2 separate regions of the Homo sapiens genome follow, and region 1 is reported to be linked to region 2. Evidence: microRNA targets listed by miRTarBase, many of them from high-throughput screens and not tested one by one. Region 2 holds a microRNA gene; the other region holds the end of a gene's coding sequence.

Region 1 (5,000 bases), not on the chromosome of region 2:
TTTACAATAACAAATCTATGATCTCATTTCATTTTATATATAAACACACAGAATTTTCAGCCCAGTTTTAATATGCTTTGGATTTTTCAAGAATGCAATGAGAGAATTCTATAAATGGAAGGAAGCCTATATACTGAGTGATTATGAGCAAGAAAGCCAGAGCCAGGCTGCTTTCATTTTAATCCCAGCTCTGCCATTATTAGCACATAACCAGGATGACTAGCACATAACCTGGGTAACTCCCTCATATGCAAAACGGGACTAACAGCAGTACTCACCTCATAGATTTATTAGAAAGGTATTAGAACAATGCCAGGCACACAGCAAGCACTATATGAGTGAAGCCATTACAGACTAGGTATGCCTAGAACTTTATCTAAAGAATTGGCCACATTTTAGAAAATCATACTGCTGACATCGACCCCTTTCCTGGTATTGAACTGCCAATGCAGCAGGTCTGAATTGGTAACTACCACATTCATGGTGATTTTTCACATATTTATATTTATACACACACATACAAAGTATGTGCCCTGCTTAGTAGTTTAATTACATCTTGTAATATAACCATGCTAGAATATGTACATATGAAAATAATTATTTCATTATAAAATATCTTATCTGTTTCAGTTAGAACGTCACTGATGGGTATGTTTTAGAGGCTAGTTATATTACCTGCTAGTTTCATTTCAGAATAGTAAATGGAGTGATGTTTTTATGAGTGAAGGTAAGCTTCATCATCCATGATTTTCATTTGAAGATTGAAAAGTGATGCTATAAAATATTATAATAGGGGTAGGTGTTGAGTTGTGTCTGGGAGAGTTTTAACAATCACTCTTGTAAAGTATCCTGTCAAGGAGTTCAAGATCAGCCTGGCCAACATGGTGAAACTCCATCTCTACTAAAAATACAAAAATTAGCCAGGTGTGGTGGCGGGCACCTGTAATCCCAGCTACTTGGGAGGCTGAGGCAGGAGAATTGCCTGAACCTGGGAGGCAGAGGCTGCAGTGAGTTGAGATTGTACCACTGCACTCTAGCCTGGGTGACAGAGTGAGAATCTGTCTCAGAAAAAAAAAAAAATTTTTTTTAAAGAAATAAAAATAAAGAATCCTGTCAAAAAGCATCATCAAGCAACTTCATATGTGAACACACGTCCACAATTAAACCTGGATTACTACTGAGGCAAGCAGTTTCCATTAATTTCTAAGAAATCCATATTAAACTATTATTTATGTATGTCCATAGTAGAGGTTTACAAAGGTTTTTTTTTTTTAGCAGCAATATATTTTTCAAACACAATTCAGGAGAAAACCTCAAATAAAAAGAAAGATGAAGCTGTGGAGGGTGACTGCAAGTAGAGGAGCCAGGAACTTCTCTCGCGGGTCCTGGGACTCCAGGGAACAAAGGCTGAAAAGCACCAATCTGGTTGGCCACTGCCTATAATGAAGACTGACTGCCGAATATTCACTTAAAGGATGGCTGTTCAATTCACAAGTGGCATTTTCCCCACAGAAAAAGAGCTCACCAGCCAGCTAAGGCCTCCAGAGTGATTTAACTCATCATCCAGTGGAACTACAGCTCTTAGAGTTCTCCCCACAATCTGGGGAGTAAGAGGAGATGTTGCCACCCACTTCCTGGGCATAAAGCCAGCTCAAGACAAGAGTAAAACAGGCAGGGCTGGCTCGCCCCTCGTACACAGCTCCCTCCTCATCACCAGTGCCCTACACGAGACCTCCCCAGCCCACACCCCACCCTCCTAGTGTGTTGAACACCCTGTGGTCACACACTGCAAGCCTCTTCTCTCCATCTGCCAAACACCCTTGGGTCTCCATGTCTCCATGAAATACCAGATCTTTTTCTTTTTGTTTTTTTTTTGAGACAGAGTCTCCTTCTGTCACCCAGGCTGGAGTGCAGTGGCCTGATCTTGGCTCACTACAACCTCCGCCTCCAGGGTTCAAGTGATTCTCCTGCCTCAGCCTCCCGAGTAGCTGGGACTACAGGTGCCCACCACCATGCGAAGCTGATTTTTAGTAGAGACAGGGTTTCACCATGTTGGCCAGGCTGGTCTTGAACTCCTGACCCCAGGTAATCCACCCACCTTGGCCCCCCAAAGTTCTGGAATTACAGGCATGAGCCACTGCGCCAGGCCGAAATACCAGATCTTCATGGCAGTTGTCTTAGAGGTAGAGAAGAAAACAGCCAGACTGAGCCGGGTGTGGTGGCTCATGCCTGTAATCCCAGCACTTTGGGAGGCTGAGGCCGGCAGATCAGTTGAGGTTGGGAGTTTGAGACCAGCCTGGCCAACGTAGTGAAACCCCGTCTCCACTAAAAATACAAAAATTAGCCAGGCATGGTGGCGGGCACCTATAATCCCAGCTACATGGGAGGCTGAGGCAGGAGAATCGCTTGAACCTGGAAGGTGGAGGTTGCAGTGAGCTGAGATTGCGCCACTGCACTCCAGCCTGGGTGACAGATTGAGACTCCATCTCAAAAACAAACAAACAAACAAAAAAAACCAGCCTGACTGAATTCAGTCACAGTAATTATACATGAGTGGTTGCTAGTTCCTTTAACCACACCAGAAGCATTTTAAAGGGAAGATGTTTCCTAACTCCAGTGATTTTCATGGGCTGAATTCCAGGCAGTTCAGCAAACTCAACAATTCCGGTGGTATGAGAAAGGGCATTTTGGAGTAGGAGATTTCGGCTCTGCCTAGGAAGATACCTCAGAAAATTCCCCTCGTGCAATTTCACTTTGCATATGCTTCTCCTGTTCTTCCATTTCTAATCCATAAAATCCCAAAATGCTTGGGAGGGTTTATTTTGATTTTTTTTAACAATACTGCCCTGCTGGCAACAGCCACGATAGTCACTTGCTCATCTGAAAATGCCTTGCACTTTCTTTTTCACTAGCTTCGTGTATGACGCAAAACAGAAATATTTCAATTACAGGTGACTAAGAGTAAGAAAAATATACAACTATATTTAAAATACTTAAATTAACAAGATAGTACTTTTCCATTCTAACAAAATATCATACATTCAGTTTAAACAAGAGTTAATATCCAGACACACGTTTTCAAAATACCTGATGCTAGTTGAAAATTAGTGACCATGAGGCTTTCCAAGATATTTCTAATTAGCAAACTGTGTACAATTTTGAAGAAGTGTACACACCGTGCTGGAAGACAGACACTGAACAGGTCAAAATGCAAACTCATGTATCTTTCATCAACCTAAATCTTGTTGCTTCACTTTTCTAAATGATACTTTGGCTGTCAGCGAATCTTATAGCTTCTTTTCCCTTAAAGACAATAATATATAACAACACCACCCCACACAAATAACCATAAACTTCTTTGTGTGAAATAAGCCCTATCAAAATGTGTTCATGTATTTCTGTACCAACTGATCTATACTGAGACTGTCATGAAAAAGGTATCAAACAAGTGTAACAGGCCTACACTTAAACCTCTGCCTCAAAGGAGAAATCAGATACTTGCCACGTTATTGCAAAGTCAAAGCTGCTACACTTAAAATATGGTAGATAGTTTAGAAAAATCAAATCAAAAATGTTTTCTCACTGGCTTTTTCAGATAAAGAAGTTGGACCACAAACCAACACATCTGTGTGAAAACAGCCACCAATTTGAGTCCCCCCAGCCCCTCAAAAAGGAACAATGCCACCAGTCCCTCACAATGACCATAACGTCTCTGGCCAGGACTGCGATTTCTAGCGCGTGTCTTCACATTCTATCTCTGGGGAAGCAAGACAAACAGGCTCTACCCATTTCCCTCCTTTTGTCTCCACAAGCCAGCACCTAAGATCCTCTGAATTTGTTCCCATCCAATCCTGCAAACTTCCAAGAAGGGCAGTAGATAACTTTTCAAAAGAAAAAGAAATTGCATAAGGTCCCTACATAATACTGAGGCTGAAACGAGAAGAGGCTGTCCACTGTAAAAGCAAGGCACTTGGGGCAGGAGCCAGGCAGGTGGCCTGAGCAGGGTCCCTCTCAGTGAGTCAACAGTTTGAGGCGCGTAAACCAGCTGACCAGGAGGGACGGTTCTGTGGACGAGGACTTCGTAGCTGAGGAGCCAGATTTCTTTTTGGTCCCTTCCTCCTGGAATGGAATCGTGGCGCTGCTGTGGAGATCTGAGTTGATGTAGCACCTGCTTCCTCGGATGTAGTCCGCACCCCGGACCAGATGCCGCTCGGTCGTGGGTCTGGAGAACCGGTATGGGGGAGAGGAGCTCTCTTCAATGATCGGAGGAATCCGCTCGTTACTGAAATACCGGCAAAGGGCATCCTCCCCTGTTTCCAGACAAAGTCCATTAAGTCACAATCCCAGCCGGGCGTGGTGGCTCACACCTGTAATCTCCGCACTTTGGGAGGTCGAGGTGGGTGGATCACGAGGTCAAGAGATCTAGACCATCCTGGCCAACATGGTGAAACCCCGTCTCTACTGAAAATACAAAAATTAGCTGGCGTGGTGGCGGGCGCCTGTAGTCCCAGCTACTCAGAGAAACGTTTGAACCCGAGAGGCGGAGGTTGCAGTGAGCCAAGATCGCGCCACTGCACTCCAGGCTGTTGACAGAGCGAGACTCTGTCCCCTCCAGGAAAAAAAAAAAAAAATCACAATCCCCTACACAGTGCTCTTTGGAGGGCCCTCGGCCTGCCCAGACTTCTGCCACCACCCTGAATGTGGGCACCATACCTTTACTGCTCTCCTCCCTGGATTGGCCACAAGGTCCCACCTGTGGCTGGGCCCACCAATGGGTGCTCTGGAAGCAGAAATGGGAAGGGTCCCTCATACTTTAGGCTGCTTTAGCGCCTGAGAGGTAGCACACGGGTCTCCTTTAGTGGGTGGGGACCATAGAGTGTAGTGTCCCCGCGATGGCTGAACAGAACTGTTTATGCATTGTTTAATGCAGGGCATTCAAGCTGGGCATTCAGGAACATTCCCGAACAAGGAAAAGAGTGATCCTGCCCTAACTGCCAGCA
Region 2 (5,000 bases):
AGATGGTCTTGCTCTGTCCCCCAGGCTGGAGTTCAGTGACCCTTCATGGCTCAGTGCAGCCTCGACTTCCTTGGCTCAAGGGACCCTTTCACCTCAGCCTCCCAAGTAGCTGAGACTACAGGCCCGCGCCACCACACCCGGCTAATTTTTGTATTTTTTGTAGCAACGGGGATCTCATTATGTGGCCCAGGCTGGTCTGGAACTCCTGGGCTCAAGCGTCCTTCTATCTCCGCCTCCCAAAGTGCTGGGATTACAGGAGTGAGCCACCGTGCCTGGCTGAACATAGATGAATGGAAGCTCTTTTGCCCATATGGTGAATCTGAAGCCTAATATTGAGGGAAAAAGGAATTCTGGGGAGAAACAAAAACTATGTCATATACGCTAAGCTAAGAATGCTCCATGATTCTAAGCCCTGGTTCTGGCCTGGTAAATACGGAGTAAAAGCAACACCTGCAGGGGTTGAGAGAGGCCAACTCGAGAGATTTCCTTTGGATGCAAGGAGGGGGAAGGGATGGGGAGAGTAAGGAGCTTCACCACATGCGTTTCTGCGGTTTTGTTTGGTTTCTTAATAAGCAAGCAATGCGGGTGTAATGTTCAAACTGAACAGAGCTGCCTGGTGGGCGCATGATGTTTGTGATTTCCCATTCTCTGCTGTGGGCTTCGAATATTTGTTTTAAAAAATCGAGGCCGTGCCAGGGGCTGGGGGGCGGGGCCTCCCGCGGGGCGGGGCTGCGAGCCCACCCCTGCGGTCCCCGGCCCGCCCCGGCGCCCGGGAAACTGTGTGGCGCTGCGGGCCGCGCGAGAGGGACGGCAGGGGGCGGGCGCGGCGCGGCTGCTGACTCACCGGCTATAAATAGCCCGGGATATATGAGCCGCGCCGCCCAGCGCCGCCCTCAGTCCCCGCGGCCGCGGGCCACGGGCGCGCAGCTCCACTCCTCGGCGGCCTAGTCCCTGGCCCTGGCCCTGGCCCTGGCTCGGGCTCCGGCTATGCCAGCCGCGGCGCGGAGTCCTTGGGCGGCTCTGCGGGCGCGCGATTCCCCCCCACCCACTTACCCCCCACCTGCCTGTCCGCGGAGCGACCCAGCCGCGCAGGGCAGCAGCTGCCGCACATCTGGCGGGGGCCGCCTGCCGCCCCCTCCTCCGGCGGAAGTCCCACCTGCCGTCTACCCCACCCCCAGCACTCACCCGCCGCTCGTACTGTGCGTTGAGGTCGTCCGCCATCCGCCGCAGCTGGGCCCCGATCTCCCGGGCCCACTGTTCCTCCTCCCCGCGGACTCCCGGGGCCGCCTGGGTGGGACCGCCCGCCAGAGCCCCCGGGGCGCTGGGCACGGGCGACTCCAGGTGCTGCTCCGCCAGCGAGAGCGAGGGCTGAGGACCTTGGAGAGGCAGAGGGGCGCGGTCAGCACCCACCACCCCTCCAGGCCTCGAGGTGTCTCGGCCTGCTCCCCTCTTTCCCAGCCACTGCTCCCCGCCTCATTTCTAGTGATCCCATCGCTAGTGAGTCAATTTCTCAGCTTCTCCTCCACAGGCACCAGAAAGCAAGAAGTACCTGGGGACGCCGCTCTGGGGTCACCTGTCTGGCCAGCTACGTCCCCACGGCCCTTGTCAGTGTGGAAGGTAGACGGCCAGAGAGGTGACCCCGGGGGTGGTCAGGCTTAACGACCTCTATTTTCCAAAGGGGCCACATTTTGCCTTTTCCATGTGACAGGCAGGGAAACTGAGGCCCGCCCTTAGGGAGTATCCCAAGGTCACACAGGGATACAGTGACTGACCCCACCCAGATCACAAGCCTCAGGTCTCCTGCCCTCTCGTGTCCAACCACAGGGAAGCCACACCTCCGGATGTGGCAGAGGCCTAGAGACCAGAAGGCCAGAGACTGTGGCAGCTTCAGAGCGCGGGCCTGGGGGGCTGGGACGCGGGAGATGCCTTCCTGCCCCCCCCCCCCCCCCACTTCTGAGCGCCCTAGGAGGCTCCTGCCCTCCCGTCCCACCAGGTCCTGGCCTGAGGGTTCCCTAAGGCCTACAGCCAGGGCCTCAGTTTCCACATCTGTGACCTTGGCCTTGAAATCGGTGTCCCCTTCCAGGGCTTCCAGGAACTGAGTTAGGGAAGTTTTCTCTTTCCTCGCTCCCCTTGGGCTGCCGGGACAAGATGGGGGATGGGAAACCAGGACACACTTTCCCTAGAGCGCCTGCCGGCAGGGATGGGGCTCCACGGGCACCACAGGGTTAACAGCCCATCAGGCAGGGGACCTTTAACCCTTCCCTCCCCAAGACTCCCCCACCTCCCCGAGGGGACTTCCCAACACAATGGCCCCTCCCCCTCTCCTTCCTCCGCCGGGACTGCTGAGGACAGCCCCTGGCCAAAGAGATGCAAATAAAAGCAAAAGGCCTCTCGACCCCTCCCCAGAGGCCAGAGTTGACAGTCCTCCCGCTCGGCCCACTCTCCCTGCAACAGGAATCCTCCAGGGGGTCTAGAGGACCCAGACTGGGGGAGGGGAGCTGGGATGCAGCTGTTGCCCCAGGCCCGGAAGAGACAGTGGGCTGCAATTCGGGGACTGCAGTCAGATTCCAGGAGGGACTTCCCACTTGACCTCCCCCTCCACCCCCAGCCTCCGTCTTCCTGCTTCTTGCAACACAAAGACCACATTGGCCACACCCTCCCAGTGGCCCGGCTGGGCCCGCCACCTCCCCCCGTCCTCTCCCACTTCTCCAGTTCCTCCGAGTCTCCAGCCCTCTCTCTTCCCGGCTCCTATCACCCCGGGGGCGGGGCGGGCACTCACCGTCCGGGCGCGGGCCTCGGGGCCGGCTGCGGGGACCCCCAGGCCAGCGGGAACCCCCCAGGGCGGCGGTGACGGCGGGTGGGGCGGTGGGGGCGCAGAGGTAGGCAGCGGGCAGCAGGGTGGGGGCGGCGGGGGCGGCAGCCAGGCCGGGCTCGCAGAGGCCGCAGGACACTGCCGAGGGCACCAGGCGGCCGAGCGGGAAGGGGCGCGGGCCGTCGCGGGCCAGGCCCTCTACGGGCTCCGGGGAGCTGCCCTCCTGGCGTGCGCGGGCCATGGCGCTCCCTGGGGCCTGCGGGACACGGGAGGAGGAGCAGGTCAGCAGGGAAGTACCAGGGCCCACTGTACCTCCAGCCTACCCGGGGTTAGGACCCAGATGGAGAAGAGTGGAGGTGTGTGTGCATGCGGAGGGGGTGACGGCCCCACAGAGACACGCCCAGCCGGGGGATGACACCACCGGGTCCTGGCTGGCCTGGAGAGCCTCCCGTGCATACGGTGATGGGCACACAGGAGGGACAGGGGGCACAGGACGGCTCTCACAGCAAGGACAGGGCTCACACAGGACGGATGGAGGGGTCTAGCAGGTGTGTGTATGAGGGCTGTGACAGTCCCACAACACAAACTCACTCCACTTGGGACTCACAGCATGGGCTGGTGGGGACAACTTTCCCAACACAGCGACGGGCACACAGGGAGGGCAGTGAGGCACAGCGAGGCCCCCACAGCACACACACAAGGACTCACACGGGACTGGCCAGCCTGACCGCCCACCCCACCTCCCACTTGCACACAAACACTGAGATGGCCCCAGTCTCGGACATCACTACTCAGTACACACAATACACACACACCCCCGACCAAAGCAGGAGCATCCAGACAGACCATCACAAGCACTCTACATACTGCGCACACTGGCTGGCACAATCCATCCCCACACATCCAAACTGTCAAAGTCTCACACACTGACCCACTGTTGATATGCCCAGGGGCACATGCAAACACAATGCAGCCTTTGCAAACACAAACACACACACACAAGCTAGGCACTGCCTCAGTTCCCAAACATGCCCCTCTCCACACACACACACTCACTCCAGAGATAAGACCTGCACACCTCTGGACTCACATATCAACACAAAACAGACACCCACGGACACACATACATCAACACCCCCAAAACACACCCACATGTCACCAACTCTCAGGACACACGTAGATCAGGCACACACAGACACATGCCATCAGACCTCAACACACCACCAGACACCAACCCACCCTCCTCACGCAACCCTCAAACATCATCACCAACTGTCAGCAACACACACACACACACACCCTACAGCTAACTCTAATCCCACACAGCCCAGCAGCACACACACCTAGCGCACCCACAGAAAACACTGGTCTCACGTGACTGACATAAACACTACACACACGCAGCCCACATGACACACATGAGCCAGCCGATCACAGTGACAAGCCCCTCAGACCCAACACACACACACACACACAGGCTCAGACACAACCCCATCCAGAGGCTGCCAGCAACACCCACCGTCTACACTGCATAGACCCCACAGATCCTGGGTCCTCAAATCCCAGACGCTGATGCCAGACACACAAGCCAAACCCAGACTGAAACAACCCCCCACCACACACATACATACACACACACACTCACACCTGACAACTCACACAGACACCTGGACAGAAAACAGACATTTGCATTTAGCAGGCGCAGCATCACAAACGCTGGGCAAAAGACACATGCCCCGGAGATACAGAGACGGCCTCAGCCAAGACAGAAACACACAGGCAAGACACAAGCACACATATCGCACGCTCGGGCAAGACACACACATAAACACACAAACAGCTCACTCCAGCAACACACACACACTACAACCTCCACACCCCAGCACACGCAGGCACCACAGACCCCCAGTATCATCCCGGAACAGCACACACAGACAACTCTCACCGACAACACACGCAGGTCCACCCACCCCACAAGCAGGGCACCCACAGACAGAACCCCACACAAACAGGCGCGGGGACTCACGCAGACACCCCGACGGGTCAGAAACCCCAACATTCCTCTGGATCGACACCACCACTCCCTGCAGAACCCAGCACAAACTCGGAGCCAGACACGCGCACACACCCAGGCGAGACACCTGCAGATCCACAACCCCGCACACGCGCGCTCCCACGGCGGTCCCAG

Evidence for each region. The annotated mature microRNA hsa-miR-3190-5p reads UCUGGCCAGCUACGUCCCCA and lies in region 2 at 1,577-1,596, shown strand. An mRNA with a match to its seed (bases 2 to 7 or 8) in the 3' UTR can be bound and repressed. Matches are read on the target gene's strand: a 7mer-m8 pairs with bases 2 to 8, a 7mer-A1 pairs with bases 2 to 7 and ends in A, and an 8mer does both.
Region 1: miRTarBase lists CNKSR3 as a target of hsa-miR-3190-5p. Seed matches in the 3' UTR shown: 8mer at 3,712-3,719, 7mer-m8 at 2,297-2,303 and 7mer-m8 at 873-879.

Annotation. Positions count from the first base shown.
Region 1 is chr6:154,402,343-154,407,342 of GRCh38, forward strand. It overlaps CNKSR3 (CNKSR family member 3), which reads right to left. Exons shown (of 13, transcript NM_173515.4): 13 at 1-4,310. The coding sequence ends at 4,012. Among named protein-coding and RNA genes, the nearest start is that of IPCEF1, 48 kb to the left of the region's middle.
Region 2 is chr19:47,225,379-47,230,378 of GRCh38, forward strand. MIR3190 (microRNA 3190) reads left to right here and starts at 1,564; the gene lies at 1,564-1,643. BBC3 (BCL2 binding component 3) reads right to left here. Exons shown (of 4, transcript NM_014417.5): 2 at 2,780-3,068; 3 at 1,186-1,376. The coding sequence starts at 3,053. It overlaps MIR3191 (microRNA 3191), which reads right to left and starts at 1,641; the gene lies at 1,566-1,641. RefSeq lists enhancers at 1-495, 1,704-2,646 and silencers at 569-1,128, 623-789, 1,159-1,458, 2,679-3,118, 4,979-5,000.